Linked DNA regions of Homo sapiens: region 2 is linked to region 1. Evidence: fine-mapped expression QTL. A gene starts in region 1. The other region holds a variant in brackets. All regions are shown on one strand. Distances are between the middles of the regions. Region 1 holds the start of LINC01607 (long intergenic non-protein coding RNA 1607). Region 2 overlaps LINC01607 (long intergenic non-protein coding RNA 1607).

Region 1 (2,904 bases):
GTGGCTTAGGCCTGTAATCCCAGTACTTTGGGAGGCCAAGGCAGGCGGATCACCTTTGGTCAGGAGTTTGAGACAAGCCTGGCCAACATGGTGAAACCTCGTTTCTACTAAAAATACCAAAAACAATTAGCTGAGCATGGTGGCGCGCGTCTGTAATCCCAGCTTCTGGGGAGGCCGAGGCAGGAGAATTGCTTCAACCCGGGAGGCGGAGGTTGCAGTGAGCCGAGATCGCGCCACTGCACTCCAGCCTGGGCGACAGAGTGAGACACCATCTCAAAAAAAAAATAGCATTGAGATCAATAAGGAAGTCTAGAAACCAGGAAGCTTTTTGCAAAGAGAAAACGCCTTTTGTTATTCTCACCGATGGATATTAAGCTTTCCCTCACAGACAGGACTACAAGCTTCAGAGTGGATCTGAGATGAATGCGAATTGCTGTGTACCTTTGTAAGGGACAGAAGACCGGATTTTCAAATTTAAAACAACCATTCTGTTTCTGGAATCAGAAATCAGTTTCGAGATTTACAACTGTATTTTTTAAAAAATCTGTCTTCTTAGTGGACTCGGGGGGGACTTCACGTGGCACCCAGTACACGCCACGCCAAGCCACCGAAGCCAGAGGTGTGTGTCTGGGGCCAGAGACGTGCATTCCCTCAGCAAGGCCGGCCTCAGACGCAAACGCCAGCACCGCCACCCTGTCGCCCGCTGAGAGGATCTGGCCGCCGGGGGGAGGGGGCGGGGGGGGGGGCAGCGGGGGAACAACAAAAAAATCCCAGCATAATGATTATTCCCAGGGACCGTTGGGTTTTTTTTTCCCCAAGGCGGCCGAAAAAACAAGTGCTCCCCTTCCCCGGAAATGAGATGCACAGGGGTATTCATTCCATTCCGCGGCTGGGAAGCCCCTGCGGAAACGAGTCTGGCTGCATGTGCGGCCTCGGTCCCAGAAATCAAAAAGAGCGTCCCCTGAGCCCACAGCTTGCTCCTCCATGTGACCGGCCCCTGGGCTGGTGGCCACTGTGGACGCGCCCGGCGCCCCCTCTCCCGGCTCCCTGCGGGTTCCGCGGAGCCGCCGGCGCGCAGCCCGGCCAGGTGCACCCGGCACGGCCCCACTAACAGCGCGCGCCTCCAGCCGCCGGGCACTGGCGGCCACGCGGGCGAGATTTACGGTGGCGCTAGGCGGCGGCTTCCGAGGCCGGCCGGCGCCCAGGCTCCGATTACAGGTTCACACTGGGGGCCCGGCCGGCGGCCGCCCAGCCCCCGCCGGCGCGCCCTCGCGCGGCCCGGCTCCCCGCCTGCCCATTCTTCTCCATTCATGCGGACGCCCAGCGCCGCCGCCGCCGCCGCCAGCGCGGCCGCCGCCGTCGCCGTCGCCGGCCGCCCGGATTGGCTGGCGGCCGCGGCGCCGGCACTTTCCCACGGCCCGCGGCGCGTGCGGCTCACCGGAGGCGCTGCAGGCTCGGCCCTGGCGCGCGGCCAGGCCAATCGGGGCGCGCGGGGCGGGGAGGAGCCGCGGCCGCCGGCGGGCTTGTGTCCCGGCCCGGCCTCCCGCGCCTCCCCGCCGCCCGCGCCTCCTCCTTCCCCTGAGTGCAGGCTGGACAGAGCCCCCGCGGAGCCGACGCACCGCCGCCGGGCAGGGGCGGGCGCGGAGGGCGGGGGCGCGGTCCGCTAGAGCCCTCGGCCTCGCTCCCGCCCCTCCCCGGAGCGGCTGCCAATCAGCGGCGCGAGAAACCGGATTGGCCGGGGGGCGGCTGTTGCCCTGGAGTTGCCGCCCCGCCTCTCCGCCCCCTCGCCCGCCTTCCCCACTCCCCCGCCCTCCCCAGGGCCCTGGGAAGGGGCTCAGCGTGGGAAAGGATGGTTGAGTTTTAACCAGAGGCAAAGCGTGAGCGGGATCAGTGTGTGCGGAACGCAAGCAGCCGAGAGCGGAGAGGCGCCGCTGTAGTTAACTCCTCCCTGCCCGCCGCGCCGACCCTCCCCAGGAACCCCCAGGGAGCCAGCATGAAGCGAGCTCACCCCGAGTACAGCTCCTCGGACAGCGAGCTGGACGAGACCATCGAGGTGGAGAAGGAGAGTGCGGACGAGAATGGGTGAGCTGGCGGCGGCGGAGCGGAGCCGAGCCAGAGCGGGAGGCGAGCGCAGGCCTGCCGCGGTGACAGCGGGCTAGGACCCTTGGCGCGCCGGTGCCCTGCGCTGACCTCCGCGCGTCGCAGGCTGGCGGCAGCCTGCGGCCAGGGAACCCCTAGGTGCCTTCCAGCCCAAGTGGCAAAAAAAGTCTGAGTGCGGGGAGGGTGTGGGGGCGACCTCTCAGATCACCTCTCCTCGTTTAACGGCGATTTCAGTTTTTGTTTGTTCTTTTTCTCTTTTCAGAAACTTGAGTTCGGCTCTAGGTTCCATGTCCCCAACTACATCTTCCCAGATTTTGGCCAGAAAAAGACGGAGAGGAGTGAGTCTCTTTACACTCTCCTTTTATTTTTGTTATTGATTAACGGAAATAACCACCTTTTTTTTTGTCTTTGAAATTTACAGTCGTAATGGTAATGCCTTCCTTTGTTTTGCTTGCCTTCTGCAGATAATTGAGAAGCGCCGACGAGACCGGATCAATAACAGTTTGTCTGAGCTGAGAAGGCTGGTACCCAGTGCTTTTGAGAAGCAGGTAATGGAGCAAGTAGGTAAAGCTCTCAGCATAGCTATCTGCACCTTCTGAATCTTCCCCTCATTAATCTCATCCGCCTTGGAAAATAGCTGTGTTGCTTGTGCCTAGATGAATTCGTACACAGATACCAGCGTATTTTGTGAAGACAACTGATTTTGCTTTAGTCCATGCTTTACGATTTACAAAGCATGTATCTTTGTATATATGTTTGCATATTTTAAATTGTTCCCCAAAGGAACTTGTGCCAAATCAATCT
Region 2 (2,904 bases), 34 kb before region 1:
GCAGCCTCCTTCTTGCTTCCTACTCTGCGGTAGTCATTAACATCATGACATTCTTCCATATGATGATCACTCCATGATTGCAAGATAGCTGCTGTGCCTCTGGGTATTATATCTTTGTTTCAAACAAGGAGAAGGGAGAGTTTAAAGGATCAAAGTCTTTTCTTATGTGGCTCTGGCTCTGCATTTTATTGGGCAGGAAAGTGCTCCTCAGGGTATTTTGTTTGGAGCCATGGATTTGTGTCAGGCTGCTACTCTCTTAGCAGTAAGGGAGGTTGGGGAAACAAGCATTTCACCTTTCTGGCATGTACTCTAGAAACTGCAAGGGACAAGGGGGATGTGAATGACACAGGCCAGCAAATCCCAGCCACCTTTTGTGTTAGATTGTTCTGCGTAATTTTTTTCATCAAATTTGTTTTTTATAATTTTTTCATAAAATTTAGCTTTTAATTTTTTTTTTTGAGACAGGATCTTGCTCTGTTGCCCAGGCTGGAGTGCATTGGCACCATCTTAGCTTCACCTCCTGGGCTCAAGCAATAACCTTCACCTTCACCTCCTGGGCTCATAACCTTCACCTCCCAGGCTCAATCAATCCGCCCGCCTCAGCCTCCAGAGTAGCTGGGACTACAGGTGTGCACCACCATTCTTAGCTAATTTTTTCATTTTTGTTGTTGTGGGGGTCTCACTATGTTGCTAGGGCTTGTCTTGAACTCCCGGGCTCAAGTGGTCCTCCCATTTTGGTCTCCCAAGTGCTGGGATTACAAGCATGAGCCACCACATCAGGCCCAAAGTTATGATTATGTGAAATTATCTTACTATTTAACTGTTTTCTTACCTATGGAATGCTCTTATTTATGGTAAGCTACAGAAGAATAGAATACAGAAGAATCTCTTTTGTTTGAGGCTGTGACCAGAAGTCCCTGGCACATAGTAGGCATTCTATAACCATTTGTTGATTTTCAGATAAACAAGTGAACAAACAAAAGAGAAAATGTGCCTCCATGTTGCAAATAGATTTCTGTAATACATAATACATCCACAAAGCACTAGATAATCAAAGTTTAATTGTGAACATCCTATGCAAATTGCTGGCATGCCATGAGGATGCTGTTGAATGTGCTGTCCTTTTGATCTAAGGAATAATAGTGGTCCTGTTCACCACAGTTGCATTGGTAAGAGTGACGATGGTATCTTCTGTGAGGTCCACTCTGTCTCTTCAAGTTGTCTTTGTGACAGAGAGCTTGACTAGCAGAGTGTTCATGGGTCAGAGAGAAGCACAGTGTCTTCCCACAGGATTTAGCCACTGGCCATGTCTGGATTCATGGTCGAATTCACTAGACTTCCTGGACACATACAAGCCCTAGAATA[G/T]GACATAAAATACCAATGACATAGACACAGGCTTGGTCAGGTACATGCCAAATTTCTATGCCAACCCAAAGCTCTATTTATAAGAAAGGATTTTGTAGTGGCTTTCAAGCTCAAGGTTGAACATGGTCACTGTTGGAATCTAGACAGCCTGGTAATGGTTAGTGGGCTAAGAGAGTAGACTCCTTTGCAGAGGGCACTGAATAGCCTCACGGGAGTGCCTCAGCCTAAGGAAGAGGTGGCCTACTAAGTTCAGCTAATCTGAATGTCTTGGTGTCCAGCAGGGAGGAAGGAGAGAGTCTGAATACTGCTCCTTGTCCTCAGATGAGCTCTTCCTGTACTCATGTCTGGATCCAGAGGAAATAAGACATGTAAGTAAATATGGGAAGTATTTTCATTACAAAACCTCCAACTACAAAGCACAGTGTCATACTGCTTTGGTGCCTGTGTGACAAGAGGTTATACAAGGCGAGAAGGAGGTGCTCTTTCCCTTTCTTCATGGCTTACAGCCATGGCTGTGATGCACAGAGGGCTTCGGAGAACACAGAACCTCCTTAGCTTGTTGAGGTTTCCAGTGCGGTAGCCACATCTTTAGCACTTGTTCCTGAGCACACCGAAAACATCTCCAGGAATGCTCAGAAACAAGCAGGAGAGACCTGGAGGGGATGGAGTTCCTACAAAAGTGAGTAGGAAGGAGAGCTTGAGATGTTTGTTTCATTGTTTGTAATAGGAACCCATTTTAAACATTAGTTCCCATCCCCATCTCAGCCTAATGAAGCCCATAGAAAATGGGCTCATACATTTGTTGAACAAATATTTATTGCCAGGCACTGTACTAGATGCTGAAGATAGAGCAAGGAACAAAATAGACAAAGTCGTTACTTTCATAGAACTTACATTATACAGGGAGAGTCTTAGTCTATTGGGCTGCTATAGCAAAATACCATAACCCGGATAACTCATAAACAATAGAAATTAATTTTTCCCTGTTCTGAGGCTGGGAAGTTCAAGATAAAAGTGCTGGCAGATTCAGTGCCTGGTGAGGACCCTCCTTCCTGGTTCATCGACACTGTCTTTTCTGTATCCTCACATGGGAGAAGAGGCGAGGGTCTCTTGGGGGCCTTTTTTATAATGGCACTAAATCAGTTTGTGAGGGCTCTACCTTCATGACCTGATCACCTCTTAAAGACCCCACCTCCTCATACCATTATACTTGGGGTTTAGGATTTTAACAAATGAATTTTGGGAAGACACAACATTCAGCCCACAGCAAGGAGAGATAGAAAATTAACAGATTTTGATGATAAAATTGCTGGAAGGACTAAGAATTGGATATAAAAAGAAAAATTCATTGAGAATATTTCATCAAGAGTCAAAAGAAAAGTTTGGGGAGAATTAATCATAGGAGGAAGATATCAACTATTCTCCATCTGCACTTAAATGACTGCAAGTCATAACCAGCCTTTCTGTGAGCTACACCAGACCTTCCAAGGCCAACCCTCTTTGTCCCCTCTCTGCACACCTAGAGCCTCATGGCCTTTG

The links.
Region 2: its variant is fine-mapped to the expression of LINC01607 in caudate (GTEx, PIP above 0.99). The same link has a PIP of 0.9 or more in cerebral cortex, hypothalamus, nucleus accumbens, putamen, skeletal muscle and testis.

What each region holds. Positions count from the first base shown.
Region 1 is chr8:79,766,753-79,769,656 of GRCh38, reverse strand. It overlaps LINC01607 (long intergenic non-protein coding RNA 1607), which reads right to left and starts at 1,515. Exons shown (of 4, transcript NR_125410.1): 1 at 1,439-1,515. HEY1 (hes related family bHLH transcription factor with YRPW motif 1) reads left to right here and starts at 1,890. Exons shown (of 5, transcript NM_012258.4): 1 at 1,890-2,082; 2 at 2,363-2,438; 3 at 2,565-2,648. The coding sequence starts at 1,994. It overlaps LOC101927040 (a long non-coding RNA gene), which reads left to right. Exons shown (of 6, transcript NR_110954.1): 6 at 1-285. RefSeq lists silencers at 718-887, 988-1,347, 1,388-1,867 and an enhancer at 2,318-2,367.
Region 2 is chr8:79,800,940-79,803,843 of GRCh38, reverse strand. It overlaps LINC01607 (long intergenic non-protein coding RNA 1607), which reads right to left. Exons shown (of 4, transcript NR_125410.1): 4 at 1,002-1,357. LOC101927040 (a long non-coding RNA gene) reads left to right here. Exons shown (of 6, transcript NR_110954.1): 4 at 1,647-1,733. Among named protein-coding and RNA genes, the nearest start is that of LINC01607, 34 kb to the right of the region's middle. The variant G/T (reference allele first, on the strand shown) is at 1,366.